Linked DNA regions of Homo sapiens. The protein of the gene in region 4 purifies or fractionates together with the protein of the main gene of each other region. This does not show direct contact. Each region holds a gene or a part of one and is shown on either strand. Other genes may lie near its edges.

The links.
Region 1: the proteins of LPP (region 4) and PPME1 fractionate together in Homo sapiens (co-fractionation; one large-scale study listed by BioGRID). This does not show direct contact.
Region 2: the proteins of LPP (region 4) and HSPBP1 fractionate together in Homo sapiens (co-fractionation; one large-scale study listed by BioGRID). This does not show direct contact.
Region 3: the proteins of LPP (region 4) and IPO11 fractionate together in Homo sapiens (co-fractionation; one large-scale study listed by BioGRID). This does not show direct contact.

What each region holds. Positions count from the first base shown.
Region 1 is NC_000011.10:74,232,123-74,240,029, forward strand, and holds part of PPME1 (protein phosphatase methylesterase 1), read left to right. Parts: intron 1-3,778; coding exon 3,779-3,844; intron 3,845-7,010; coding exon 7,011-7,134; intron 7,135-7,907. UniProt on the Homo sapiens protein: Demethylates proteins that have been reversibly carboxymethylated. Demethylates PPP2CB (in vitro) and PPP2CA. Binding to PPP2CA displaces the manganese ion and inactivates the enzyme.
Region 2 is NC_000019.10:55,268,008-55,275,914, forward strand, and holds part of HSPBP1 (hsp70-binding protein 1), read right to left. Parts: intron 6,616-7,907; coding exon 6,391-6,615; intron 1-6,390. UniProt on the Homo sapiens protein: Inhibits HSPA1A chaperone activity by changing the conformation of the ATP-binding domain of HSPA1A and interfering with ATP binding. Interferes with ubiquitination mediated by STUB1 and inhibits chaperone-assisted degradation of immature CFTR.
Region 3 is NC_000005.10:62,412,752-62,420,658, forward strand, and holds the start of IPO11 (importin-11), read left to right. Parts: upstream 1-11; 5' UTR 12-178; intron 179-6,132; exon of another isoform or gene 6,133-6,262; coding exon of another isoform or gene 6,263-6,376; intron 6,377-7,907. UniProt on the Homo sapiens protein: Functions in nuclear protein import as nuclear transport receptor. Serves as receptor for nuclear localization signals (NLS) in cargo substrates.
Region 4 is NC_000003.12:188,885,648-188,893,062, reverse strand, and holds the end of LPP (lipoma-preferred partner), read right to left. Parts: 3' UTR 2,392-7,415; downstream 1-2,391. UniProt on the Homo sapiens protein: May play a structural role at sites of cell adhesion in maintaining cell shape and motility. In addition to these structural functions, it may also be implicated in signaling events and activation of gene transcription.

The DNA.
Region 1 (7,907 bases), on a different chromosome or scaffold from region 4:
CAGCAAAATTACAAGAGACCTTTAAGTCTCTATTATATTGCACTGTATACCCTTAAGTTTTCCAATACTCCCTTGAGGGATATGGCTCATATTGTTAATTTTCATTAATGTCTGTCTTAATGCCCTTCCTGCATCATAAGGGAAGAAGCTATTCTGTATTTCTTTTCTACTTTCATATAGCATATGGCATACTGCCCTAGCAGGCAGAATATATCTGTTAACTGAATCAGATATCAAGTGGAAATTTAGGACTTGGTAAATATATCCTAGGCGTTTTCCTAGGACAAATGGTCTTATGCAAGAATATGGCTTGTCAGAATGATGTTTGTGTTGGTGAAGTTTCTACCACTTCCTGTTCACTACTGTGATGCAGGATTCCTGTTCTCACAGAAATATCAAAGATCTATCTTGGGCAGATAGCATCAAGAATGTAGCTGCTGCCAGCTTGGCTTGTATCTCAGGTGCCCTGCCTGCTTCCGCAGTAACAACAAGTGAGAAAGTTATTCTAGACTTGGCTCAGTTGTCTAAAGCCCATCCAACTTTTATCCAAACTTTTTTTTTTTTTTTTTTTGAGACAGGGTGTCACTCTGTTGCCCAGGCTGTGGAGTCCAGTGGCATGATTACAGCTCTCACCGCAGCCTTGACCTTCTGGGCTCAAGCGATCCTCCTGCCTCAGCCACCCAAGTAGCTGGGACTACAGCTGTGCACCACGATGCCCAGCTAATTTTTGTTATTTGATTTTTTTTTTTTTTTTTTTTTTGTAGAGACAGGGTTTTATCATGTTGGCTCGACTGGTCTTGAACTCCTGAGCTCAAGCAGTCTGCCTGCCCGCCTCGGCCTCTCAGAGTCATGGGATAAATGGGTATGAGCCACTACGCCTGGCCCTTTTTCCGAACTCTAAAAATTTATTCAGTAAATTTTTTTTTCTAGTGCCTAAGATGTGTCAGTACCTGATCTAAGAACTGGGGGATGAATCAGGCTCAGTTCCTATCATCAAAAAACTGGGGATGCAAACAAGGAAACACATAAACATAACACAATGAAGGAAGCCAGGGGATATACCTAATGCAGCCTGGGTATCATGGTAGGCCTTCTCTTAAAGTAGTCTTGTTTCTTTTGCCAGATACAGGATAGAATAAGGGTTCTGTTTGTTAAATGTTAAGATGTTCTGGGTTTCATGAGAGTCATTGATCTTTCTGAACCTGAAAATTATTATACTATGAGGTATTTGGTAATTTTGTTTTTTATTCTGCTGGATATCTGAATCAAGTTTATGACTGATGGCCATTTTGGCTATTCTAGATTTTTTTTTATGTTGAAATATAAGGCCAATGATTTACTGCTTTTGCTCTCATAGGTTTCCTAATGAGAGGCAGCAGGGGTATAGTCATTAAGAACCTGGGCTTTAGGCCAGGTGTGGTGGTTCACACCTGTAATCCCAGTGCTTTGGGAGGCTGAGATAGGAATATTACTTGAGGCCAGGAGTTTGAGACCAGCCTGGGCAACATAGCGAGACCCTGTCTCTACAAAAAATATATATATTTTTTTAATTAGCTGGGTGTGGTAGCATGTGCCTATAGTCCCAGCTACTCAGGAGGCTGAGGTGGGAGGATCATTTGAGCCCAGAAGTTCAAGGTTATAGTGAGCTATGATCATGCCACTGCACTTCAGCCTGAACAACAGAGTGAGACCTTGTCTCGAAACAAAACAAAAAAGTTAGGGGAAACCTGGGCTTTGAGGTCAGACAGATACAAATTTGCATCTTGGTTACACCACTCTGGCTGTTCTGAGGAAAATCAAATAGAAGAAGTGGGGAATGAGGTGTGAAGTTGGTTAGGAGACTGTTATAGTAAAGGAGAGTAATAATGGTAAACATAGACGAGGATGGCAACAGAGGAAGAGAGTCATTTTTTAATGTATTTTCGAGGTAGAACTGACAGGACTGGTTTATGGATTGGATGTTGGGAGAGAGACGGGGAAGGGCAGGAAGGGACTTAAGGATGACTTCTAGGTTTTTAGCCCAAGCAATTGGGTGAATGGTAGAAACAGAAAGAGGTAGATATGGGAGCAAATAAGGGGCAGAGAATCAGTTTTGTTTGGATAAACTCAAATGCTTATTACATATGTAAGTAGAAATGTTAAGTAGGCAGTTGTATATACTAGTTAGAAGAGGCTGAACTAGAGATAAATTGGAGAATCGTCATCACATAGTTAATATTTAAAAGTGAAAGATTGAATGTAAAGACCTAGGAACTTGATATTGATAGGAAAAAGATCCAAGACTGAGTCTTGGGATATTCCACAATATTTAGAGCTTGGGAAGAAGAGGAAGATCCAACAAAGAAACTGAAAAGGCACAGTTGATGAGATAAAAGGAAAACCAGGTGAGTATATTAAGTGTTTGTAGAAGGAGGGAGAGAATAACTGTGTCGGATGCTGCAGAGAGATCAAGTAAGATGAGGACCAAGAAATGACCATTGGAATTGGCATGATAGAGGTGACCTTGACAAAATAAATATCTGAAAATAAATGGGATATAAAAATCATATATAAGTTGGGGAAAGGATGAGAGGTGACAAAGTAGAGAAAGCAAGATAACTCTTTTGAGGAGCTTTGCTGTATAGGAGAGCAGAGAAATGGAGTAATAGGTAGTAGTGAATGTGGCATTGGGAATGTTTTTAAAGGCTGGATAATGGAGTATGCTTGTGACATCCACGAGAGAAAAAAAGTGACACAGAAGAGAGACAGGATAACTGAAAGAAAGAGTATCTTTTCAGAAGCAAGAGGGGATGGGAACTAGTGCCCAAGGTTGGCCTTGATAGGAATAGATATTTCATGTATTAAACAGGCATCAAGGCAGAGTATATTATTACAAGTATTGGTGAATTTGTGGATTCATTTGGTAGTTAAAAGATGAGGTAATAGTTCTGATTGCCTCGGTTTACCATTAAAGTAAGAAATCATGTCATTATCTGAGGAGAGGGGCTTTAAAATTTTGAATGATTTTTTAAACTAAGAAATGAGATTTAAAGAAGTGCTTTCTCCTAGTGGCTTGCTTCAGGCAGTGTTTCCAGTTCACCCTGGGAATGCAGTCATTTTGCTCTGCCTTAGTTGTACTTAGGTGGACAAATGTGAGAAGACTAATTTATTCAGATAGCCTAAGCCCTGTAGCACGGCACACAAGGCCCTGGAGAAGCTGGCGCCTGCCTTCCAATCCTATTCTGTCACGCTCCCCTTTTATCTCCTCCCTGCTTCTCCTTGCACCCAGTTCTCTAAAATCATTATCCTGCCGACTTTCACATCACAGCACCTTTGTACATAATGTGCCCTCTGCCTAGAATGCTCTAACCAACCTCTTTTATTTTCTGGTTAAACTTGTTATCTATACTCCTCAGTTTAGCTGTGACCTCTGGGGAGCTTTCTCTGACCTCCTCATTCATGTTCAAGTGCTTTCTTTGAACCTTGCCTCATTATATTAACATTATATGTGTCTTTTTCTCCCTACCGAATTATGTGCTTTTTGAATACAGGCCTGGCACCTAGTATCCTCTTGATAAATATCTGCAGAACTGAAATGGCTATGATGTTTTTACTTAATTTTTACTTATAAAACCATGTAGCCAGGTGAGTAATAGTGGCAATCTCTATAGTAAGAAACACTGGTGATCACTACTTTTTATTAGGTCTCACATAATCTGTAGAATTATTTATTTGATTCCAATGATGTGATACAATAGATACTGAATAACCTTCTCTCTTCCTTTCTTTTCTTTCCCAGTGTGAAGAGTGGCCAGATTCGAAATCTGGAGTCTGCCCGTGTCTCAATGGTTGGCCAAGTCAAACAGTAGGTCTTACTCTTCCCCCTTGGTCTGGTTAGAGGCGGAAACATGGTGAGGGAATTACAGATTGCTTCTTTTGTCTTACACCAATTCTACCATTCCGGTAAATGCCTTTATTATTTTAAATAATTTTAAAGGTGAGTTCAGTTGGGACAGACATAGATTTTCTTTCGCCTGCCTTCCTTTCTCTCCTTCCTTTCCTTCCCTTTCTTTTTTTTCCTCCTCATTTAATACTGGATTACCTTAGCAAAACTCTGCGTGTTAAAAAGCAAATCCCAGAGCATAGACATTACAAATTATGTTAACCTTAGTGATAGCAGCTGAGTTTCATTCTAGTAACAGTCTCCTTCTAAGCCAAACCTGGCTGTGAGGGAATTATAATAAAAAAGCTCTGGCATAGCCTGAGTGAAAGCCAGATTCTAAGAGTGAGCTAAGATTATTTAGCCCAATTGATCTTTCCTGATAGAATTACATGGCATTCTGGGTATTGCTGTATAGTCACAAAATAAACTTTAGATGAATTGAGAAAATGTTGCCCAACAGAACAGACAGAAGTTAGATGAAAATGATAATGGCTTTGAGTGCTTACTATTTGCCAGGCACTGTGCAAGGTATTTTATATGCACTGTCTCATTTTTAAAACCTTATATTATGGAAAAATTTTGCACATATAAAAGAAGAGTGATACAGTGGATGGACCCCAGTGTTCCCATTGTCCATTTTCAATGGTTATTAACCCATAACCATGTCTCATTTGTTTCATCTGTGCCCCTATGTATTTCCCCTAGTCACAAAATATTTTGAAGCAAATTCCAAACAAATATAATTTCCTCTGCAAGATTTTCATATGATCTAAAAATAAGGGCTCTTTAAACATCATCACGATGACATTATTACACGTAAAAAAATTGGCAATTCTTTAATATCATCAAATATCTAATCAATATTTACATTTCTGATTGTCTCATAAATAATTTTTTACAATTAAAGTCAAAATCAAAATAAGTAGATAGCAATTGGTTGATCCACCTCTCATGCATCTTTTAATCTAAGGTTCCACTTCTGTCTCCCTCTTTTTTTTGATTCCTTGCAATTTATTTCTTGAGGAAACCTTGTTTGCCCCATAGAATTTCCCATGATCTGGATTTGCTGATTGAATTCTCAGGCCATAATTTAACATATTCCTTTGTTCCTTATATTCTGTGTAAATAGTTAAATCTAGAAGCTTCATCGGGTTCAGGTGTTTTGTTTGCAAGAATACTTGATAGGTGATGTTGCGTACTGCCATCAGGAAGTACATAATGTCTGGTTGTCTTTTTTTTTTTTTTTTTTGAGACAGAGTCTCACTCTGTCGCCCAGGCTGGAGTGCAGTGGCGCGATCTCAGCTCACTGCAACCTCTGCCTCCCAGGTTCAAGCAATTCTCCTGCCTCAGCCTCCTGAGTAGCTGGGACTACAGGCATGTGCCACCATGCCCGGCTAATTTTTTATATTTTTAGTAGAGGTGGGGTTTCACTGTGTTAGCCAGGATGGTCTCTATCTCCTGACCTCATGATCCGCCCACCTCGGCCTCTCAAAGTGCTGGGATTACAGACGTGAGCCACCATGCCCAGCCAATTGTCTCTTTTTTTTTAATGTCAGGAGCCGTTGATGTTTATTACCTAGATTCATTAATTCATTTGCACTATCTCATTTAATCCCTACAATACCTCTTTAAGATAAGTATTGCTTTATAGATGAGGAAATAGAAGTTCAGAGAGGTAGTTTCCCAAGATCACATAGCTAGTGGATGACATAGCTGAGATTCAAACTCCTGTGTATTTGACTTCAAGGCCTATCTTATGGTTTTATGCCTAAAAGGGCAATTTCAGTAGAAATATCAGGCAGTCAAAATGCAAGACTTTGAATAACCTGTGAGACTGCCCACTTTTCAATTCCTAAATATTTTGAGACCTCAAATTTGTCTAATCAGTAGTAAAGCATTTTACATGGCATATATGCAGATAGTTGAGTGATTTTAAAATTTTATTTCCAGTGATGTTTTCTCTTAATAAGTAAACCTATGTGTAGGAGAGTGTGTATGTGCATGTGTATTAACTGTCACATAGATAGCTGGAACTTTCCTGCCCCTTATAATCCAGGTGAAATTGCCTTGAACCTCCTAATCCACAGGCTATAGAAATTCAAAGCATATGTTTCTTTGTTACACTGTTTTTTTTTTTTTTATCACATCTATACTGTATACTACATGTGAAACTTGGCACAAGTTTCATATAAAACACCTACTTAACAAAACATTTGTGAACTTACACTTCACTGAAGGTTTGGCAGAGAAGACAGAAAGGGAGAAGTTATCATTCTTAAAAATCTACCGCTGACTTTTGAATTTATCCCAGTCTCTTTTTATCTTGCTTGTTCTCTCTCCTTTTCCTTCTCTGTCTTTGTCAAGGGCAAAATAACAGATTGTTCTCTATCATACAGAGCAAACCTTGGCACTAGCTGTTGCCCAGGCCCTTGGGATTTTTTTACCTTCAGAGCTTGTCAATGTGTTTTTTCCATCAAGTTCTCTCTAAAGGAAGTATGGTACCAGCTGTTGATATAATAATAATTTTTCTACCAAAGAATATAATAAAAAGAGATGCAATTTTTAAGAGAAAAACAACAATGATAATTGGTTGGTTCAGATGGTTTCTGTCAGCTAATTAAAAAGTGAGGCCTTTTATCATTCTGTTTGAGCCTTGTTCTACTATAAGCAGGGTTCAGCAGAAAAGCACCATGTTTTGGAGTTAGTTGAGCCTGGATTTGCATCCCAGCCTTAACCACTTATGAGTTAGGTGATGCTGGACAATTTTCTTAACTCTTCAGGGCTACTTCATAGGATTGTTATGAAGATTATATAAGATTATGCCAATAAAACTCATGCCTGAGGAAGTGGTTGCTCCCTTTCTATGGGTCAGTATTGGTGCAAGAACTGGAAACCAGCCCTTGGAGAATAGTTATACATTGGCCATGATTTTCCACAGCCCTGGAAATGCACAATTCTATCCTCCTACCAGGATGATTGTTAAGTTTTAGCTAACATTTGATTATAAAAGGCCGTAAGTATGAGTATCTCTGAGATAATTTGTGTATTGGAAAGAGGTGTGTAATAGCACTTTTTTAAAAAAACCTAGGTGTGAAGGAATTACAAGTCCAGAAGGCTCAAAATCTATAGTGGAAGGAATCATAGAGGAAGAAGAAGAAGATGAGGAAGGAAGTGAGTCTATAAGCAAGAGGAAAAAGGAAGATGACATGGAGGTGGGTAAAAACATTCATTCTTGAAAAGATGCGGTATGGAATGGTTCAAACTGTGTGTGGGTGGGAAGGGGTGATAACATTGTTCTTTTTGTTTGCCATTAGGTATTTTAGGGAGCCAAGACACTATCATAAGAGATACTTAGCTTAACTATAAGATGTAAAGCACTGTTGATAGCTCTGACCAATTGGAACATAAAACTTACGCTATATACCCTCCCCTAAAACAGACTGCTTTCTCACCTGTTCTTCTGTTCCTGTGTTTCCTCCCATGAGAAAAATTCCATTTCCTACCAGTCTACTCTAAGCTCATCCAGATCTTTTTTTTTTTTTTTTTTTTTGAGACAGAGTCTTGCTCAGTCACCCAGGCTGGAGTACAATGGCGCGATCTCGGCTCACTGCAAGCTCCGCCTCCCGGGTTCACGCCATTCTCCTGCCTCAGCCTCCCATGTAGCTGGGACTACAGGCGCCCGCCACCACACCCAGCTAATTTTTTTTTGTTATTTTTAGTAGAGACGGGGTTTCACCGGGTTAGCCAGGATGGTCTCAATCTCCTGACCTCGTGATCCACCCGCCTTGGCCTCCCAAAGTGCTGGGATTACAGGCGTGAGCCACCATGCCCGGCCTAAGCTCATGCAGATTTTACCCTGTCCATCTGTCTTTCAAAGTTTTTCTCCTTGAGGAAGCTCTTTAATTTTCTTTCCATTTTTTTTTTTTTTTTTTTCGTTTGAGACTGGGTTTTGCTATGTTGCCCAGGCTGAATTCCTTGGCTCACG
Region 2 (7,907 bases), on a different chromosome or scaffold from region 4:
GTAGCTTGTGGCCACTAAACACCTGATATGTGGCCAGTGCAACTAAGGAAAAGAGTTGTTCATTTCATTTAAGTTCCATTCATTTAAACTTAAGGTGAAAAACTGAAGCAGTGTAAAATATTTTCCATTAAACACAACGTTGGCTGGGCGCGGTGGCTCATGCCTGTAATCCCAGCACTTTGGGAGGCCGAGGTGGGCAGATCACTTGAGGTCAGGAGTTCGAGACCAGCCTGACCAACATGGTGAAACCCCGTCTCTACTAAAAATACAAAATTAGCTGGGCGTGGTGGCGTGCGTCTGTAATCCCAGCTACTAGGGAGGCTGAGGCAGGAGAATCATTTGAACCCGGGAGGTGGAGGTTGCAGTGAGCCGAGATTGCGCCATTACACTCCAGCCTGAGCAAAAAGAGCGAAACTCCATCTCACACACACACAAAAAGAAAACCAAAAAAAGAAAAACACACACAACGTTGTTGCTCTGGCGCACTCCACACTACCCCTGAAAACTCAGCATGTTGCGATGTGCTTCATTTGTAAAATGCACACACTAGGTTTTGAAGACTTAGCATGACAAAAAATACAGTGTCTCATTAATAGTCCATATTAATTACACATTGAAATTATAATAGTTTGGACATATTGGGTTACATATTTATTTATTTTAGTTTATTTTATTTCATTTTTGAGACAGAGTCTCGCTCTGTCGCCCAGGCTGGAGTGCAGTGGCAGTTGGCTCACTGCGACATACGTCTCTCGGGTTCAAGCAATTTTTATGCCTCAACCTACCGAGTAGCCGAGATTACAGGCATGCCCCACCATGCCTGGCTAATTTTTTGGTATTTTTAGTAGAGACAGGGTGTCACCATGTTGGCCAGGCTGGTCTTGAGCTCCTGGCTTCAAGTGATCCACCTGTCTCGGCCTCCCAAAATGTTGAGATTATAGGCATGAGTCACCACGCCCAGCCAGATGTTATTTAATTAAAGAAAGAAAAAAGAACAGGCATGCATGGACTGGAAAACACAAAGACTCCTCTCATTCAATCTGTAAGCAAGGCCTGTCAGCTCTACCTTCAAAATGTACCCAGGAGAGACCTGTCCCCTTTACGCCAGGGTTTCTCCACCTGGGCACGGTTGGTATCTGGGGCCAGATCATTCTGGGTTGGGAGGCCCGTCCTGTGCATTGCAGGATGTTGAGCAGCATCCCTGGCCTCTACCCAGTAGATGCCAATAGTCCCTCTCTCCCAGCTGCGACAACTAAAAATGTCTCCAGACATTTGTCTAAATGTCCTGTGGAGGACACGATTGTCCCTGTTTGAGAACCACTGCTCCCTACCACAACCTTGATCTCTTGCCTAGGTTATCACCATAACCCCCCAGCTCACCGCCCACCTTCCACCCACCCTCGCCGCATTCACCCTCTTCTCTGTGCAGCAGTTGGGGGCAGGGATCACAGTATGGCTGCCGTCATTTTTGGAAAGAAAGCCAAAGTCATCACTGCAGCCCACACATCTCCCTTAAAAAAGTTACGCTTATTCAGCGCTAAAAAGAAATGAGCTATCAAGCCAAGAAAAGACATGGAAGAACCTTAAAAGCAGATTACTAAGCCAAAGAAGCCAGTCGGAAAAGGCTGCAGATTGCATGGTTCCAAGCATATGACATTCTGGAAAAGGCAAAACTATGGAGACAGTAAAAAGCTCAGGGGTGGGATGACTAGCGGGAGCACAGAGGATTTGTAGGGCAGCGAGATTCCTCTGTAGAATACTACAGTATGGATCCATGTCATGATACAGTTGTCCAAACCCATAGTACATACAGCATCAAGAGTGCGCCCCAGTGTCAACTATGGACTCTGGGTGACAATGAGGTGTCCATGTAGGTTCATCGATTGTAATAAATGTGCCACTCTGGTAGACTGTAACAAGGAACCACTTTGGAGTGGCTCCACAGAGGGCGAGCGAGTCCATCCCCTCCTGTCCTGGGAAGGGCAGTGGCACCACCGCCTCGGGCAGCAGGAGCTGAGGGGACGTACCCTGCAAATGGCTCCCAGCACGGAACTCCAGTAATGGTACTGGACAGCCACACAATGGCATACCCTGCAGCCACCAAAAAAAAGGACAGATGCCACTGAATGGTATACTTTAACATTTTCATGTGAATTTTACCCCCGAGCAAAAAAAAGAATGGCATCCAAGCTCCCAGAGCTCTTGCCCTGCATCGTGCACAACTTTCGCTGGGGAAGCCGACCACCACGTGGTGAGGCCGCTCACGCAGCCCGAGCTTCCTGCCAACTGCCAGCAAAACTCTGCTAGCCCCGGGGCGAGCCATGGTGGAAGCCCATCTCTAGCACCCCTTCCTCAGAGGGGGATTGTGAGGGATCAATGAGGTGCAGCGCACAGGGCTTAGTGCAATGAGACCTTCAGGGAACGAGGCCCGGCTGACGGCTGACCACAACCTCATGCAACCTCATGCAACCTCATGAAGACGCAAAGCCAGAAGCCGCCCTCCTCAGCAGGGGCCACTGCTGCATTCCTCACCCGCAGGAAGGGGAAAGATAAGCTACTGTTGCTTAAGAAAAAAGGACAGAGGCAGGTCAAGGTGCGCCACAGTCAGGATGGCCTGTGCCAGCCGTGCACATCTGAGGAAACGAGATTAATCCGTGTGTCTGTGTGCACACATACCACACACGACACACTCCACATAAGCACACACCACACACCCCGTATACACACACCACATCCACACATCCCACACACGCCATGCACATCCACACACCACACATACGCACCACACATACACACCTCATATGCACCCCACATACCCCACACATATACATACATCCCCCCAGCACACACATCCCACACACATACACATGCAACACACACACCACACACACCTCCACATATATACCACACACCACACAACCCATGTACACGCTACACTAACACACGACACGCCAAACACCCCACATACACACCATACACACCCTACACACGCGCCACACACCCACTACACACACACATCACACACACACCACACACACCCACATTTGTTCTTACAGATTTATTAAAATCTCTGGAAGCAGAAACAGGTATAACAGTGGTTTTCTCTGGAATGGGGACCAGGTTTGGGGACAGGGACCATTTGCTATGTACTCTTTTGTACCTGGTGAACGATGTGACTGTCTCACAGATTTTTAAAAATATGTAATGACTTTTTTTTTTTTTAGACAGGGTCTCACTCTGTCACCCAGGCTGGAGTGCAGTGGCACGATCTCAGCTGACTGCAGCCTCTGCCTCCCAGGCTCAGATGATCCTCCCTCCTCAGCCTCCCAGGTAGGTGGGACCAGGTGTGAACCACCAAGATGACCTAAAGACTTCTTTTTTAATGCAAGCTATTAGAAGAAAACTCTGCCAGCCCCTCTCTACCCTGCTCTGGCCCTCGGGACACCATGTCCTTCTCTCTGCCCTTTGTGGCCGAGCTGCCCCATGTCTGTCTGTCCCTGTCACCCTAGTTTTGGCTGTGACTTTCCAAGTGCCCCTTTCCTTGCCTCATCAGAATGCTTCCTTCTTCCGGAATCTCCTCCTACCCAAACCCTCCCTGTTCTCCTCCCAGCCTCTGCATGGCTGGGGCCACCATCTGCCAGGAACACAACACTGATTCCAGGACTCAGGATACATGGGGGTGAGGGAGAGAAAGAGGGTGTTGGACCCCCCTCACAGCCCCCATTTCAATGACCAGATAGGCTGCTGGAATTAAAAAATAGCCAACCTCAGGCCAGGCACAGTGGCTCATGCCTATAATCCCAGCACTTAGGGAGGCTGAGGTGCTCACCTGAGGTCGGGGGTTTGAGACCAGACTGGCCAACAGGGTGAAACCCCGTCTCTCTGTACTAAAAGTACAAAAAAAATTAGCTGGGCATGGTGGCATGTGCCTGTAAACCCAGGTACTTGGGAGGCTGAGGCAGGGGAATCCCTTGAACCTGGGAGGTGGAGGTTGCAGTGAGCCGAGATTGCGCCACTGCACTCCAGCCTGGGCCACAGAGCGAGACTCCGTCTCAAGAAACAAAAAAAGAAAAAAAAAAAAGCCAACCTCGAACAGATTAAATGTAGAGTTACGATATGACCCAGCAACTCCACTGCTAGGTATACACCCAAGAGAACGGAAAACAAATGTCCATAAAAACACCTGCGCAGCTATGTCCACAGGAGCACGAGAGCCCAGAGATACAAGGAAACCAGGGACTGTCAGCAGACAGGCGGAGGAAGAGGCAGGGCACGGTGGACCCACGCAACAGGACACATTCAGCCGCGGGAAGGAACACAGCACTGCCACCCGCCACCACTCGGGGACCTTGCAGCATATGAAAGGAGCCAGGCAGAAAAGGCCTCACGGTGTGGGATTCCGTTTGTACAAATGTCCCGGAGAGGGAAATCCTTAGAGGCAGTAAGTAGATTCATGTTGCAGGGGCTGCGGGAGAGGACGGACGCCGAGTGATTGCTTAACGGGTACAGAATTTCTGCTTGGGGGAGAGGATGAAGATGTTCTGAAATTTTGGCCGGGCGCAGTGGCTCACGCCTGTAATCCCAACACTTTGGGAGGCTGAGGCGGGTGGATCACCTGAGGTCAGGAGGTTGAGACCAGCCTGGCCAACAGGGTGAAACCCCGTCTCTACTAAAAATACAAAAATTAGCCGGGCGCGGTGGCGGGCGCCTGTAATCCCAGCTACTTGAGAGGCTGAGGCAGAACTGCTTGAACCTGGGAGGAGGAGGTTGTAGTGAGCCGAGATCGCGCCATTGCGCTCCAGCCTGGGTGACAAGAGCGAGACTCTGTCTCAAAAAAAAAAAAAAGAAAGAAAAGAAGAAAATGTTCCAAAATTAGATAGTGACTGCCGATAGCCATACCACCCCGAACGCGTCTGATCACATCTAAAATTAGAGAGTGATGATGGCTGCACAGCACTGAATACACTAAGAAGTACTACGTTGTTTTTCTGGTTTTTGTGTTTGTTTTCAGACAGGTCTTGCTCTGTCACGCAGGCTGGAGATGCAATCATGGCTCACTGCAGCCTCAACTTCCCAGGCTCAGGCAATCCCACCACTTCAGTCTCCTGAGTAGATGGAGGTACAGTCACGCACCACCACGTCCAGCTAATTTTTTAATTTTTGTAGAGACAGGGGTTTCCCTATGTTGCCCAGGCTGGTCTCAAACTCCTGGGCTCGAGCAATTCTCCCGCCTCGGCCTCCCAAAGTGTTAGGATTCCAGATGTGAGCCACCACGCCTGGCCAAGAGTACTAAGTTATACACTTTAAAAGGATGAATTGTATGGCCTATGAATTACATCTCAATAAAGCTGTTAGAGAAAATAAAAGGAAAGAGTCCAGTTGGGGCGCTAGTATAGCACATGCAGGCAGGCATCCAGCACATACGAAGAGCTCCACCAGGCTGGGATCCTGGCTCTGTGTGTCCTCTCCAGACCCCCTGGCCCGATCCCTCCCGTGTGGAGGAGACACAGTGGGCCCAACTTCAGCAGGTGTGCATAAGGATTCAGCGAGTCAACACCTGGCATGGAGAAACTGCCCCACAGATGTTGGTTTTTGTCCCGTCCCTGTGCCCGACCTGGTGCCTGTGTCCCAGGCGGCAGTATTTGGGGGAGTCCTGGCCAGCTCTGCCCTATGGAGCTGCAGAAACCTGGCCGTGTCCCTCTGCCCACACCTCAGTTTCTTCCCCTGTCAAATGAGGATGCAAACGGTCCCTACTTCACAGGCCATTAGGATAAAAAGAATTTGTGGCTGGACATGGTGGATCACACCTGTAACCTCAACACTTTCAGAGGCCAAGGCGGGAGGATCCCTTGAGGCTAGGAGTTCAAGACTAGCCTGGGTAGCAAAGCAAGTCTTGTCTCTATATAGGTTAAATGAAAAAAAAAAGAAGAAGAAGAATTCATGTACAGCAGGGGTTCTGACCAAGGGGCTTTCTACATCTAGGGGCATTTGTGCGCTGGCAGGTGGGGTGATAGTGTCTCTCCATGGCCTGGAGGCCACCCACCAGATGCTGCTCAATGTCCTGTAGTGCACAGGACGGCCCCCGAGAGAGTGAACCAGCGCCAGTGTGAACAGTGCCCAGCTGAAAAACTGCTGTGTGCAAAGCGCTCACGCTGAGGGCCAGGTGGTCTCCCCGGGAAGTGGTCACATCTGCTGCCTGGCTAGCAGGGGGTTTGGCCGAGTGCGCCACTCACTCTGCCCGCAGCACTCAGCCGTGCAGGGGTCCAACAAGCATGGGAACAAACGAGGGAAGGAGATGCCTCTCCCTCTGCCCCAGCAGATCCCGGGGGCCCACCCGGCACCCCCCCCCACCGCCAGCACCCCTGTCCCCAGCCCCACCCGGACACTCACAGGAGATGGCGAAGAGGGCCTTGACGCGCACCGTGTCGCAGGCGTCGCGGTCCAGCAGCCGCAGCAGCTTACGCAGGGCACCCAGGCCCAGCACCTGCTCCTGGATGGCTGCCACGTTCTGACTGCACGTGCCGATGAGCTGTGCCGCCCGCCACCGCAGTCCCGCAGCCCCCGCCTCCAGGTACCGGCCCACCAGCAGGTGCATGCCAGACAGCTGGCAGAAGTCTGTGCCACAGAGGGGAGCAGAGAGAGGCCAGATGTTAGGGACTGAACCGTGCCCCCCAAAATGCATGGGTTGATGTTCTGACCCCCAGTACCTTGGAATGTGACTGTTTTTGGAGATGGGATCTTTAAAGAGATCATTAAGGTAAAATGAGGTCCTTAGGGTGGGCCCTAATGCAATCTGACTGGCGTCCTGATAAGAAGAAGAGATGAGGACACAGACACCCACAGAGGGACAACATGGAGGGAGGACACAAAAAATGCCTTCTGCAAGCCAAGGAGAGGGGGGCTCAGGAGAAACCAGCCCTGCCCACACCCTGATCTCAAACTTCTAGCCTCCAGAGCCGTGAGAAAATACATTTCTGTTTTTAAAGCCAGTAGTCTGTGGTGCTTGGCTAAGGTGGCCCTAAGCTGACCACTACAGCTGCTGAGGCCGGGAGAGCCAGGCCGGCTCCCACAGGGACGCAGCTCTCTCCAAACACCCAACCAGAGGTCCCCCCAAGGCTAGTACAACTCGATTCCATCAGCATTTGGGGCATTAGGGCCCCAGGCTCCAGACTACTAAATGCCAGGACTGATCCTGGTCTTTGTGACAATCTGAATGTCCCCAGGGTCAGCAAACCACAGCCCACCTCCTGTTTTTGTAAATAAAGTGGTATTGGAGAGCGTGGCAGTTCCTAAAAAAATGAAATACAGATTCCCCGTGACCCAGCAATTCCGCACCAAGGCACAGACCCAAAAGAACCAGAAGTAGGGACTCAGATACTTATATACTCAAGTTCATGGCAGCATCATTCATAAATGACCCAAATGTCCTTAAAGGATAAAGGGATAAATATAAACTGCTCTAGCCATACAACGGAGTATTACTCAGCCATAAAAAGGAATGAAGCAGCTGGGCGTGGTGGCTCAAGCCTATAATCCCAGCACTTTGGGAGGCCAGGGTGGGCAGATCACTTGAGGCCAGGAGTTCGAGACCAGCCCAGGTAACATAGCAAAACAGGGTTTTTGCTATGTTATATACTAAAAATACAAAAATGCCAGGCCTGGCCAGGTGCGGTGGCTCATGACTGTAATCCCAACACTTTGGGAGGCCAAGGTGGGTGGATCACGAGGTCAGGAATTCAAGACCAGCCTGGCCAACATGGTGAAACCTCATCTCTACTAAAAATACAAAAATTAGCTGGGCATGGTGGTGGGCGCCTATAAGCCCAGCTACTCAGAAGGGCAAGGCAGGAGAATCGTTTGAACCCGGGAGGCACAGGTTGCAGTGAGCTGAGATCGCGCCATTGCAC
Region 3 (7,907 bases), on a different chromosome or scaffold from region 4:
CGCGCGTCCGCGTCGTTTGGAGCTGCGACGCCAAACATGGCGTGTTCCTAGAAGCCGCTTTCGGCATCAGTAGGCGGCGGCGTGGGGTCTGGCAGCGTGGGGAGAGGGACCAACCGACGCCACTTCGTGTTGGGAAGTGGGAGCGGGAGGGCCGGGCAATTCCCGACCGAACCAAACGGTGAGGCCCCGGCCCGAGAGCCACCGAGCGCGCGGGAGTGGAAGGGAGTGGGTTGGGCACCCGAGTCCCGAGAGGCGGGAGGAAAGTGGGGCTACCAGGAGATGAGGGATAACGGTAGCGAGGCAAGGGCGGCCTGCAGACTTGGCTGTTTGCGCAACCTTAGGAACCCGGGGAACTGGGGGCTGGCCGAGGCAGCCCGGGAGTGGGCAGCATGGTAGTGGAGCAATCAGGGTGCGGGGTGGGAGGGACCGTATGCTAGGCTGAGCAGAGGCGAGTGTACCCATCGTGACCGCGGTTGCGGACCTGGGTGATGCATTTGCCCTTGGGGGATAGGTGGTGCAAATTTTGAGATAAAGTGGTTATCTCGAGTATAAGACCGTTGTGCATTGTTACTGCGCACGCGACCTTGTTGCTAATAGCAATAGTGTGATAGCTTTAAACATTAGACCCTTACATGCTTTTAATGAAAAAGTGAAGGTAGTTGTCCGTTTATAGAGAGGAGCTTCATGGAGAGGTATGGCCGCCAATTCTCAAGCTCAGCGACTCCTGTAGATTTATATTTGGGGGTATTTGTGATTCAGCAAAACTACTTTTGCTTATTACGTGTGTCATTTTTTCTTTATTATTTTGTGACATGTTGGTGAATGAGAGAAGTACTATCTGAAAGTGATTTGACTAAATAGCAAGGACTGGTAAATTACCTACTAGTGCCAAGGTTGCAGTTGACATACCTCCTCCCCTCCATAATTTAAACGAGCTCAGTTGTAGCGCGGTAGTGCCCTTCAGATTTCGGTTATTCTTCAGAAGGAAGAATAGTTTGTAGCCATAATGCTTTTCCCCCTCCTGGGATAGGAATTTTCTTCCTCCATTTTCATGTTATTTCAAACTTCTCTGTTCAGTAGAGGAGCTTCAGATTAAGGGCAGGGTGACTCTTCTATAGGAGACATCCATTGCATGACACATATTACATCTTTCATCACTGAGGAAAATTTCGGTGAAAGTAGAAACATTTTCCCTTTTGGTTATGATGGGACTGGTATTTTCTCTGTTTCTGCAGTAACCTAGCACAGGGTATAGTAGAAACAATTAATTATAGTAGTGGCTTGTGGCCATATATTATAGTCTCAGGGTAGGAGGGTGGTCTCCGCCCTAGTTGAACTTCTAAGGCCAAAGAGAATTTTCACCACAAACACATTTGGCTGTGGTAATGTTAGAGGTTTTAAACAAATATGTAAAGATTATCTGATCATTAATAGAACAATTTTTAGATTTTGTGATGTTTGAATATATTTGCATTTGGAATCAAACCAGAATGCAGCATGATCCTTGTAGGCATGTGGCTATTAAAATACACTGAAGATTTTTCCAGAAACAAAATTTTTTTTTCTCAGCAATAAAAATATTCAAATTTTGGGTAAGGTAATGTTTGATTATTTGGATTTTGACCTTTGTGTTATATATTTGTACCTGTGTGTGTGTATGTATGTAACCTCACTTCTAATTTAGTGTTATTGATGGTAATATTTTTTCCTTTCTTTATCAGCTTCAAATAGGGACTGTTAATTTCAGAGCGTTTAAGGAATGGCAAAACACATTTAGTGCTGGTGTGAGTCTGTAGTGTGTTTGGTTTGCTGACTATCAGACTTATTACAGATAAGTCCACAGTTATAAGCTTTGTAGAGCTTAAGTTGCATCAGTGTTCTTTACCCTTGCTACTCAAATTGTGGTATATAGCATCACCTGGGAGTTTATTAGAAATGCATGATCTCAGGCTCAATCCAGAGCTGCTGAATCAAAATCTGCAATTTTAACAAGTTATCTAGATGAAAGGAATGTTCAATAAATCTTGAGATGCACTACTTTGGTTGGTAACAGTTGAAGAACACTGAGGTAATGCACAAACCGGTATAAAAATTTATAGCATCATTTATTTTAATCTGAGGTGATCTTATGCTGATTATCCAGTCTGATGAAACTGAGGCCCAGAAAGGTAAGTGCCTTGCATAAGGTCACACATACCTAGATTTATAACCCAGATTCCAACTCATTCCAGTGCTTTTCTTTTGCTGGTTACTGTCAGAGCTTGTTATATTAAAAACGGACTAAAATTCATGAATGACAATTAGGTGTTCATTCAATAACAAACGTCTATTGGGTACTGTACAGGCAGCCTAACAATCCTGTGTGTCCCTGCTAACTGCTCCTGTTTATCATGGTGGCTATTAACCCACCACCTTTCCTCTTTATTTTTTTTGAGGCGGGGTCTCACTGTCACCTAGGCTGGAGTGCAGTGGCGTGATCTCTGCTCACTGCATCTTCCGCCTCCCGGGTTCAAGCGGTTCTCCTGCCTCAGCCTCCAGAGTAGCTAGGATTACAGGTGCCTGCCACCAAGCCTGGCTAATTTTTGTATTTTTAGTAGACAGGGTTTCACCATTTTGGCCAGACTGGTCTTGAACTCCTGACCTCCCTGAACTCCACCCACCTTGGCCTCCCAAAGTGCTGGGATTACAGGAGTGAGCCCGGCCCCGTCTTTACTTTTTTTTTTTTTTTTTTTTTGAGATGGAGTTCTGCTCTTTTTGCCCAGGCTGGAGTGCAGTGGCGCGATCTCAATTCACTGCAACCTCCGCCTCCTGGGTTCAAGTGATTCTCCTGCCTCAGCCTCCTGAGTAGCTGGGATTACCGGCATGCACCGCCATGCCCAGCTAATTTTGTATTTTTAGTAGAGACGGGGTTTCTCCATGTTTGTCAGGCTGGTCTCGAACTCTCGACCTCAGGTGATCCCCCTGCCTCAGCCTCCCAAAGTGCTGGGATTACAGGCTTGAGCCACCACGCCCGGCCCCCTCTTTACTCTTTACTGGATAAAGTTCCCTTCTGCTTCATAGAGGAAATGAAATACATTGAGTGGGAACTTCATTGCTTTCTGTTCTGTTTCACCTGCAAACATGAAGACCTCTATCTGTCCATCTCTAATGATATTCTGAGTTTTTTCTCCTTACGGGCAATATTTCCTTCATGTGTTTGCTAGGGCCGCCACAACAAAATACCTTATATTGGGTAGCTTAAACAAGAGAATTTTTTTTCTCACAGTTCTGGAGAGTGGAAGTCTAAGATCAAGGTGCAGATAAGATTGGTTTCCTGTAAGACCTCCATCCTTGGCTTGCAGATGGCCACCTTCTTGCTGCCTTTTCTCGTGGTCATCCTGTGTGTACATGCACCTCTGCTGTATCTTTCTGTTTTCTTTTTTTTTCTTTTCTTTTTTTTTTTTTTTTTGAGACGGAGCCTCGCTCTTGTCTCCCAGGCTGGAGTGCAGTGGCCCGCTCTCAGGTCACTGCAACCTCCGCCTTCCCGGTTCAAGCGATTCTCCTGCCTCAGCCTCCTGAGTAGTTGGGATTACAGGCGCTCACCACCACGCCCGGCTAATTTTTATATTTTTAGTAGAGACGGGTTTCACCATGTTGTCCAGGCTGGTCTCAAACTCCTGACCTCAGGTGATCTGCCCGCCTCAGCCTCCCAAAGTGCTGGGATTACAGGCGTGAGCCACTGCACTGGCCTGCTGTTTCTTTTTCTTATAATGGCATCAGTTATATTGGTTTAGGGCCTTACCCTAACAACCTCATCTTATCTTAATCACCTTAAAAACTTTATCTCCAAATACTGAGGGTTCGGGGGTTAGGGCTTCAACATGAATTTTTAAGGAACACAGTTCAATCCATAACATTCAGTTACTCCTTTTTCAACTAGTACTAACTTAACAAGGATTTAAGCATACCCAAGTCTCTTATTATCTTTTTTTTTTTTTATTTTTTTTTTTTGAGACAGAGTACTCACTCTGTTTCTCAGGCTTGAGTGCAGTGGTGCTATCTTGGCTCACTGCAACTTCTGCCTCCCAGGCTCAAGCGATCCCTCCACCTCAGCCTCTCTGGTGGCTGGGACCACAGGTGAGGCGCAGGCCACCATGCTTGGCTAATTTTTGAATTTTTTTTTGTAGAGATGGGGTTTTGCCACATTGCCCAGGCTTGTCTCAAACTCCTGGGTTCAAGCGATCCACTGGCCTTGGCCTCCTGAAGTGTATTGGAATTATATGGGTGAGCCACCGTGCCTGGCCTCAAATCAAGTCTTATCTGAAATATACGCTCCTTACCTTAGATTCTTAGATTCCTCTTCAGCTTTATCTATAATTATTTTTCTTAGTTTTTTTTTTTCTCCTTTTTTTAAGAGACAAGGTCTCTTGTTACCTAGGCTGGCCTCAAACTTCAGGGCTCAAGTGATCCTGCCACTTCAATCTCATGAGTAGCTGGTACTACTTGTGTGTGCCACCATGCCCAGCTTATTTCCTTTAAGTTTCTTGAAAGAATTCTCTATATTCATTTTCTTCACCTCCTTATTGGTTAATTTTTTTTTTTTTTTTTTTTTTTTTTGGTATTTTGAAGGCTGACAGTCCATAGCAGTCACTGAATTTGATGTAGTGGTGATCACCATTGATATCTTTGTTGCTAAATCTAATGGAATCTGTTTAATCATTTGCCATTTTAACTACTTGTTCGTTCTTGAAATTTTCTTCTTATACTTCTGGGACACCATATTTTCCTTATTTCCTTCTTAGGTTTTAGCCAGTCTTTTGTTGGTTATTTTTCTCTTTTCTCTGACCACTTTAGATGTTTGACTCTGAGGCACTACCCTGCTCTCTTCTGAAAACCTTCAGATAAAAATCCAAACTACGTAGTTTAGGAAATAAGGACTTCAATGCACACTCTTCATGAATGGTCTCATTTGTGACTTCAACTATTGCCTCTATTTTGATGACTCCCAAATCTGGCTTTTTAGCACAGGTCTCTCTTCAACGCTGACATATGTAGTTGTCTTAAAATACTTGACATTCATGTCAAAAACGTTGTGTATTTCAACCTTCCTGACATTGTTTTCCTCCTATGAGCCATGCAGGCACCAATCAGTTGGAAAAGCCCAAAATCTTAATTCTTTCCCCTTATTAACTTATGTGTAACCCCTCCTCCAACTCTCCAACTATCTAATTATTTTATTTCCAACTCTCCAACTAGCCATTATTTATTTATTTATTTCTGAGACAGAATTTCACTCGTAGCCCAGGCTAAAGTGCAATGGTGCAATCTCGTCTCACCGCAACCTCTGCCTCCCAAGTTCGAGTGATTCTCCTGCTGCAGCTTTCCGAGTAGCTGGGATTACAGGCATGCACTACCATGCCCACGCCTGCCTAGTTTTTTTTTTTTTTTCTTTGAGAGAGAGTTTCACTCTTATTGACCAAGCTGGAGTGCAGTGGCACCATCTCGGCTCACTGCGACCTCCGCCTTCTGGGTTCAAGTGATTCTTCTGCCTCAGCCTCCTGAGTAGCTGGGATTACAGACGTGCGCCACCATGCCTGGCTAATTTTGTATTTTTAGTAGAGTATGTTGGTCAGGCTGATCTCAAACTCCTGACCTCAGGTGATCCACCTGCCTCGGCCTTCTAAAGTATTGGGATTACAGGCATGAGCCACTGCACCCAGCCAACACATATCATATAGTTTAAAATGTAAGTGTTTCCAGTACAGTAAGCTATTAACAGTATAGTGCTATGAACAGCATTCATATAGTTAATAGCATTATGCAGAAAAATTAAGGATATCGGGAACATAGAGATTCTTGGTTGAGGAGTGAGCCCTTTTAGATTGGCAGTTAGTGGAGACCTCTTTAAATAGAGGACAACTTGAGCAGAATGGAATGCTGTCAAAGAGCAAGACATGCTTTTATCTAGAGACCAGAGCTTTCCAGCCAGAGGGAACAAATTGTACAAGGGATAAGATACATTTTATACATATTTCACTAAAGATGTTCACGTATTGTCTCCAAGTCTCTGTTAATATAGATAACTAGGTCATGCAGACAACCTAGTCCTTTGTCTCCTTATTCTTATATGCCTGTGCAGGGGTTTCTGTGATTATAGCACCAGGTGTGAAACTGCTGGGTCATAGAAGATACAGTCACGAGTTGCTTAAGGCTGGGATACATCCTGAGAAATGGGTCGTTAGGCAATTTTGTTGTTCTATGAACATCATATGAACAAACCTAGATGGTACAGCCTATTATACACTTGGGCTATGTGGTATATAGCTTATTGTATCTAGGCTATAAGCCTGTACAGCATGTTACTGCACTGAATACTGTAAGCAGTTGTCACAAAATGGTAAGTATTTGTGTGTTTAAACATGTCTAAACTTAGAAAGGTACTGTAAAAATACAGTGTAGAAGTAAAAAATGGTACATCTGTACAGGGCACTTACCTCGAATGGAGCTTGGAGGACTGGAAATTGGTTTGGATGAATCAGTGAGTGAGTGGTGAGTGAAAGTGAAGGCCTAGGGCATTATTGTACACTTAGGCTAAAATAAATTTATTAAGAAATTTTTTTCTTCAATAATCTTAGCTTATTGTAACTTTTAGTTTATAAACTTTTTGTCTCTGTTGCAGTAACACTTAGCTTAAAACACAAATACATTGTGTAGTTCTACGTTGTTTAAAACAGACGCAAACACACACATTAACTCAGGTACACACAAGGTCAGGATCATCAATATCTCTGTCTTCCACCTCCACATCTTGTCTCACTGGAAGGTCTTCGGGGGCAATAACATTCATGGAGCTGTCATCTTCTATGATAGCAATGACTTCTTCTGAATTATCTCCTGAAGGACCTGTCTGAGGCTGTTTTACAGTTAACTTTTTTTTTTAATAGGAGTAGTACATTGTAAAATTATGATAAGAAGTATAGTAGTGGGGCTTGGTGGCTCACTTCTGTAATCCCAGGGTTTAGGGAAGCTGAGGTGGGAGGATTGCTTGAGGTCTGGGGTTTGAAATCAGCCAGGGCAACATAGCCAGACCCCATCTCTACAAAAAGTAAAAAAATTAGCATGGCATGATGGCTCATCCCTGTAGTCCCAAGTCTCAACTATTCAGGAGGCTGAGGTGGAATGACTGCTTGAGCCCAAGAGTTCAACGTTGTAGTGAATTATGATGCCGGCATTGCTCTCTACCTCAGGTGACAGAGATCGTAACTCTTAAAAAAAGTAGGCTGGGCGTGGTGGCTCACGCCTGTAATCTTAGCACTTCGGGAGGCCAAGGCGGGTGGATCACGGGGTCAGGAGATTGAGACCAGCCTGGCCAACATGGTGATACCCTGTTTCTACTAAAAAAATACAAAAATTAGCCAGGCGTGGTGGCACACACCTGTAATCCCAGCTACTTGGGAGGCTGAGGCAGGAGAATTGCTTGAACCCGGGCGATGGAGGTTTCAGTGAGCCAAGATCGTACCACTGCACTCCAGCCTGGGCAACAAGAGTGAAGCTCCGTCTCAAAAAAAAAAAAAAAAAAAGTATAATGTAGTAAATGCATAAACCAGTAACATAGTTGCTTATTATCACTTTCAAGTGTTATGTACTGTACCTAATTGTATGTGCTCTGCTTTTATACAAATGGCAGTGCAGTAGGTTAGTTTACACCAGCATCACCACTAACGTGTGAGTAATGTGATTTACTACGACTTAGGATGGCTATGATGTCACTATGTGATAGGAATTTTAAAGCTCCATTAAAATCTTACGGGATCACTGTCGTATATATGTGGTCCATATCTGACTGAAACTTTTTTTTTTTTTTTTTGAGACAGGGTCTCACTCTGTCACCCAGGCTGGAGTGCAGTGGCACGATCGTGGCTCACTGC
Region 4 (7,415 bases):
ATATATATAATGTATATATATATATAATGTATATATTTTAAAAGCTTATTTTTTATCCAATAAGTATGGAGATTCTTATATATCCATTAAAATCAAGCCTTTTAATAATGTTAAAATCTTCTATATCTTTAGTGATTTTTTGTTTTTAACTCATTACTTGAATAGTTACTGAAGAAGGTGTTATTAAAATATCCTTCTCTGAGGGTGGATCTTTGAATTTTTATGGGTTGGGTGTGATGGCTCACGCCTGTAATCCCAGCACTTTGGGAGGCCGAGGTGGGCGGATCACCTGTGGTCAGGAGTTCGAGACTAGCCTGGCCAACATGGCGAAACCCCGTCTCTACTAAAAATATAAAAATCAGCCGGGGGTAGTGGCGGGTGCCTGTAAGCCCAGCTACTTGGGAGGCTGAGGCAGAAGAATCGCTTGAACCCAGGAGGCGGAAGTTGCAGTGAGCTGGGATGGTACCATTGCATTCCAGCCTGGGCGACAAGGGCACACTCCAACTCAAAAAAAAAAAAATTGTTTCATTTCTGCTTTTCCCCAATTCAATTTCTCCTTTCTACTGATTTTGCAGTTATATATTTGTTTTCTTTAGATGGCAGCCATTGAAATATTTACATATATACATAACTTAAAAATGTAAAGATAATCAACAGCACCAGTCTTCTCCAAAATCAACAAAAATCTTACAAAGATTTAACTCTAGTCATTGGGCCTACATTCCACTATCGTCCAGTATTTTAGCTCAACTTTTTTAAGTCCCTCAACTTAGAAAATAATTGTTTGCTATTCCAGTCTGTTTAGAATTGACTATATGGTTGCCTACCTTCTTTGCTCAGCCTTCCTGTTGCCTTGTTGATATTCATTCCTTCTCAGCTTTCTCTCTTCCTGCAACATGATTTTTAGAATTTCTATTAATTAGGGTATCTGGACATTAAACACTCAGTTTTTTTTTCATTTGAAATTTCTTTTTCCTTGAAATGTAAATTATAAATAGAATGCGTCTTCCACTCTCTTCTGCATTATTCAAATCATTTGTATACAGCAATGGACAGAGAGTCAGGAGGCCAGGACTCAAGATCCAGCCCTGTCATTAAAATATTTTATGACTTTGGATAAGTCTTTTCATATCTCTGAGACTTAGTATTTCTTCACAAAGTCAGAGTAAAATAATCTCTAAAGGCCCTTCTAGCTCTTACACTCTGAATAGAACAAATGAATGTATACTATTAGAAAACAGAGCAGAAGGGTAGGTGAAAAAACAGAGTAATTTGAGAAATACAGGGAGAAGGAAGATAAGATTACCTCTTACAGCTTCTTTGTAGAAGAATAAAGAGAAGACAAGGTTACATCTCATGTATTCTTTTGTTTACAACTTTCTGGTAAGAAATTACAAGTACCACAAGTCCCATTGATATACCTACCCTTTGTTTGTTCAAAGATTGATCTTGTGTATGGCAGTTTAAAATAGTGGTCTTTAGTACAGAGTCTTCCCACCTGTAGTTCTCAGATGTCCCAGCACTAGTAGGCAGAAATGTGATGTTGGAGAGATAAGTAGAAAAGAGAACAGATAATCTTTTCTGACTTTCGTGGGGTGAGTTTCACGTATGCTGTAGTGCTAATCACTCTTATTAAGCATCAATAGACTGGGTATCAGGAGTCTTGGTTCTTCTGTAGAACTGCTACTTTAAAAAATGAAAAAAAAAAAGGCTCAGCAAATGAATGCTGATCTTGGGTTATTAACTTTTTTCCTCACTCTTGGAATTTTCATCTATAAAATGAGGGTAAGATAATCACAAGGATATTGAAAATGGAGTGACAGTGAAAAGTCTGGAACATGCTAAGTTACTTTTTCCTGTTTGTGGTTATTCCTTTCCTTTCCCCATAGGTATTTGTATCCATATCTATCAGCTTAACTAGACTATAAACTCATTGAAAGGAACTATATGTCATTGATAGCTGTATTGCTCAAGATGCCTAGTACAGAGGAAATTCTCAATGTTTGAAAAGCATGCGTAATACAGATGGAATAAAAGTATGAACAAGTCAGCCACTTGTTTGTGATGAAAATGGAGAACCCCAACCCCACCCTAAGGGACCCATTTACTTGGATCCAGCTTTAAAAATGAAAATGTCTTTGCAAGGTCAAGACACAGAGTGGTCAAATAATTTTAGAACACCTCTGACCTTAAGTTCTTCTGTGCTAACAGTGGAAGAGAGTGGGTGCTTTCATACTCTTGTGGCACCATATTTGCTATGAGAGATATTCCGTTTCTCAGAAGACCATATGGAAAGCAAATGATGTAAAAAATGAGTCACACAGTAAAGGGGGTTAGAAGAAAAGGAAACAGAGATTATCCAACTCAAAAAGAATTCCACACATAGGCAAGTAAATGTAATAAGAAGTTTATTGGATTTCTAAATATAATAAAGTAGTTGCAACTCTTTTACAGAAAAAAGAAATATAATTTCCATATTCATTCTTATAGAGCATTGAAAAAACATAATTGGTAGAGAAAACTGATAGAAGGTAAATAGAAAAACAGGTTTTAATATAGTCAGATAATGCATAAACACAAAAGAAAATACCTAAATCACTTGCTTATAACAGATTTTATTCTCTTATTTTCATACTGAACTATGTGTGCTATTTTGGATACATCAGTGATGGTTTGTAATGTAGTGAATAAATGCAATTTGCTAAGAATACAAGAAAAAAGAGAAACCTATATTTTAGGAATACCATGGCTCTGTCAGTATCACACATATGAAAATAGACATATTCTTTATATGTTTTTGTGTGCCTTTCCCTAAGTCAGGGAATGTTATTCAGACTAGCAGCTCATCACGGTGGGGCTATGATTGTGCTTAGCTAGTAGGAAGTGCTGCTCTTAGTAGACACATTTAGCATAGAGAAAACCCGGCTTCTCACCATCTCCGCCTTATCTATCCACTTGTAAACACCATTTAACCTTTACATAAGACTATCTTCCATGGTCATAATCATCAGATTGAAACTCAGAGCAAAGCCATGCTGTGTTTCTTCCCAGTCCATTTGTTTCCAAGGAAAAAAAAAATCTCTGTATCCCAACATCCTTATGACATTACACTGAAATTTTTGAACTCATTTTCCAGCGCTAAAATCTGATCCTCTAAAAAATAAAAAAAATGACTAGTGTGGAAATTGGACAAGGTAAAAACAGAAAAGGAACATCAACAGGAAGAGTAGGCATTTTTAGTGAAAAGTATCACCCTTTTGCCAAAGAGTCAACTGGATTCATCCAATGATGATGACTAGAGCAGGGTGGTCACACTCTTGAAATTATGAAACATAGCTGTTCCAACCTCACCCGTAGCTTATGTAATGGGGCTCCTTATATGGAAAAGAGAATGGTGGCTGACTGCAATGGCATGGAGTCCATCTTCCATAGTTTGTCCCCTTTTACTTCCATTTGGTAAAACTGGGTTAGGTAGGAGACAACTTTATGACCAAGAGGACACCAAGAGCTTCCTTGGATAAAGGTTAAGTGGAGGTATCTTGCTTTGCCCAAACAGAGGCATATTCAAGTGAATATGGAGCCAACTGACTTAGAAGGAAAGGGAACGACTTGGCAAGTGTAATCTGCCAGCTGGTTGAGTCAGACGACACATTGAGAACGATCTTTTTTGGAATCATGTCCTCCCTTCAACCCTTCTCCTACAATCATGCACTGTCTACCTCGTCCTATTTACATGGACCCTCTCCTATTGCCACCTCTGGGTAAGAATGCATCACTCTAGGCTATGCTGCTGCTCCATCAACAGTATTGACAGTTTTGTCAGTGATGGAACTATGGAAACAAAAGCCATCAAATAACATACACTACTATTTTTAGGAGTCAAAGTAATGCTCTAAGGATCTGGCAAGGACATTTGGCCCCCTGAGCTTCCAATCCCCACAGCCAAGACTTTTCTATTTTCTCTCATGTTAGCCTGAGAGACAAAAGGAGAAGGAATGTGCTGACACTTTAACACTCTAAACCCACCGATGCTTAGTTTATAGAACACACATATGACACACATCCTAATACAGACTACGGCTCTATTAATTCTCTTAAACATCTTTTTTTTCCCTAAATGTTTCAATGCCATAAAGCTTACATTCCCTTGAAGCAGAGTACAGGAAACCTTAGCAATATGCTACCATCCAGTAGGATATAAATATAAAGAAGCTGTATCAGCAAGGGATGCTCAGGGAATGTGTTTGCAGCCCGTTTCACGGTAGCCGCTTGAGAGGGGATATTGGAAGTGAGTGACTTTCTTTCATTTGGCAAAGTTTCCTTATCTCAGCACCTACTCTTTCTGATGGTATGTTTTTGAAGGCTGCACAGTACGACTCTGGGTACCGTGTGTACATACATATGTAAGGAATAACGTTTATGTTGCTCAGAATAGGCACTTTTTGAAGGCAGTAAATCTAAAAGTAAAGTTAATAGAGCCTATATTTAGTGCTCATCTTCTCACTTTGCTGATGTGTATGCTGAACAGAAGATCACAGATTTGAGTCAGTCTCGCAAAGAGGCCGGAGTCGGCAAATGGCTATATTCAGAGCTGGGGAAGTCTTGCCAACTTAACTGTAGCTGTTAAAAAGGCAGACTTGGAGAAGGTGCAATCGTTTTTCTCAAAGGTGACGGCACAGAAAGAGAAAAGGCATGAAATAAAAGCCTGTGTGCGTGGCTCAGGGAAAATTACTATCCTCAGGCTCTGTATCTTCACGCCACATCTACTTCATGGCACAGATTTGCTACTTAGAAAGTCCTTTCCCTTTCCTTTTTTGTATGTCTCATAATTGCACATATTCCCTTACTTAGCTGTAGAGAAAGAGAAGCCCTAAATCTGTTAGAGTAATGATAAAGGTGTAGGTTAAAAGACAAAACAAACAAAACAAAAGTGGTTTATTATACAGAAAACATGCAAAAGCTCAACGCTACATCCAACTGTAAAGGTTTCAGGTCTAAGTTTAAATTTTCACTTAAGGCACATTAAGCCACATGATAATTTTATACATGCCAAATAATCAGACAATCAAGTGTCATGTTTAATTCTATTTGCTCTTTGAGATATTTCTTGAAAAAGAATGAGGGCATAATTCAGATTTTCAGAGGGGAAATATTCTGACTTTGCCTAATAAAGAAATGAGTCTTGGATAATTTGCTCATCAGCTTTCCCAAGAGAGGAAATGGGTAGTAAAAGGAAGAAAGTCTTTTAAAAATAATTTTGCTACTACTTTACTATAAAGTCTTGGTGACAAGATTTAGTTTCTAGGGTCCTAAATGTCTTTCATCAAAGATACTCCTCAGTTCAGACTTCTCCATTATGCTAGAAGGATGGCATGGTCCCATGTTAGTTTCAATTTGCTGCCTACAGAGGGAGGACCAAGGCACTTTAACTATTTTTGGCACTATAATCCTGATATGTTGATGTATTTGACACAATTCTAAAAACTAAGCTCAAAGTATATAGGATTAGTAAAATGCAAACTCTGCCCAAATACCAACTCCCCATTTATTATTTGAAAGTTAAAACATGAGGCCATTCCTGTCGTTGGCATTTAAATTATAAAAATCTCTTTTACTCTCAAAGTTTATGTTTGAAGGAATGAAACACATTGGGCAGATATATCATAACCTGCTCAAGCTACTCTCCTATTTCCAGTTTATAATTACTAAGTGAGCATTGCTGTCACCCAAAGAGAAAGAGAGAGAAGAAGGAACTGACTTTTTCCCTTTTATACTTAACGTCTCCCAAGAAAGAATAAAAAAGGAAGAAATGTATCTAAGAAAAGCTAGCTCTTCCCATTTTGCATTTCTTAAACTAGTTTGGAAGCAGAGTTAAACAATTTGGGGGTGAGGAACGACATTCAGACTTCATATTTACTCTCTTGTGATGAAGGAAAGAGTCAAGATAGTAACGATTACTGCTATGCCTCGGGATAAAGCACAGCAGGCACCATACAAAGTGGCAACACAATACATCAATAATGACCAAGAATAGTTCTTTACCCTTTTCCCAACAGATAGAAATATAAAGAGAGAATCACGCATGAGAGATAAATACCTGTTTCCACCCCCACCTCAAATTGCTTTGGCATATTTTAAGAGATAAATGGATCCACACAAAATTTAACTAGCTTTTTCTTCTCCTTTTTAGCTGTTACAAAAATGGGTCAGGTTTAGGATTTATTAATTTTCTGGCCTGAAAACCCAAGTGCTTAAAAATAAGATTTATTTTCTGAAGGATCAGCTTTCTTGGAAGGGGTGTGTGTGTGTGTGTGTGTGTGTGTGTATGTGTGTGTGTGTGTGTTTTGAAGACAATACAATTGTATGATCCCTAAATATGGGAGAACATATTATGTAAAGTGAAATACGAAAATTTTTATTAGTTTTTTCTTTATATTATGTGAAGATAAATTAGATGATTTATAAAGGTATTTGAAAATAATGTTTTTCTAAAAGGCTGCTTTTTTCACATTTACCACCTCATTGTCTTTTTATTCCCTCTGATGAGACAACACAGATTCCACCCATGTGAGTCTCTACTCAGGCATACTAGATAATTCTGAGAAGTGCTCAAATTGTGTCTTCTATTAATCCATTCCTGGGGTGGGAATACTCTGTCTATTCGACAAGAATCATTTTCCACTCACTGGCCACAATATTCATCAAGCCTCACAGGGAGGTGAGGCACTTTTCTTTTTTTTTTTTAATTTTATTTCATTATTATTATACTTTAAGTTTTAGGGTACATGTGCACAATGTGCAGGTTAGTTACATATGTATACATGTGCCATGCTGGTGTGCTGCACCCATTAACTCGTCATTTAGCATTAGGTATATCTCCTAATGCTATCCCTCCCTCCTCCCTCCACCCCACAACAGTCCCCAGAGTGTGATGTTCCCCTTCCTGTGTCCATGTGTTCTCATTGTTCAATTCCCACCTGTGAGTGAGAACATGTGGTGTTTGGTTTTTTGTCCTTGAGATAGTTTACTGAGAATGATGATTTCCAATTTCATCCATGTCCCTACAAAGGACATGAACTCATCATTTTTTATGGCTGCATAGTATTGAACAGACACTTCTCAAAAGAAGACATTTATGCAGCCAAGAAACACATGAAAAAATGCTCACCATCACTGGCCATCAGAGAAATGCAAATCAAAACCACTATGAGATACCATCTCACACCAGTTAGAATGGCAATCATTAAAAAGTCAGGAAACAACAGGTGCTGGAGAGGATGTGGAGAAATAAGAACACTTTTACACTGTTGGTGGGACTGTGAACTAGTTCAACCATTGTGGAAGTCAGTGTGGAGATTCCTCAGGGATCTAGAACTAGAAATACCATTTGACCCAGCCATCCCATTACTGGGTAT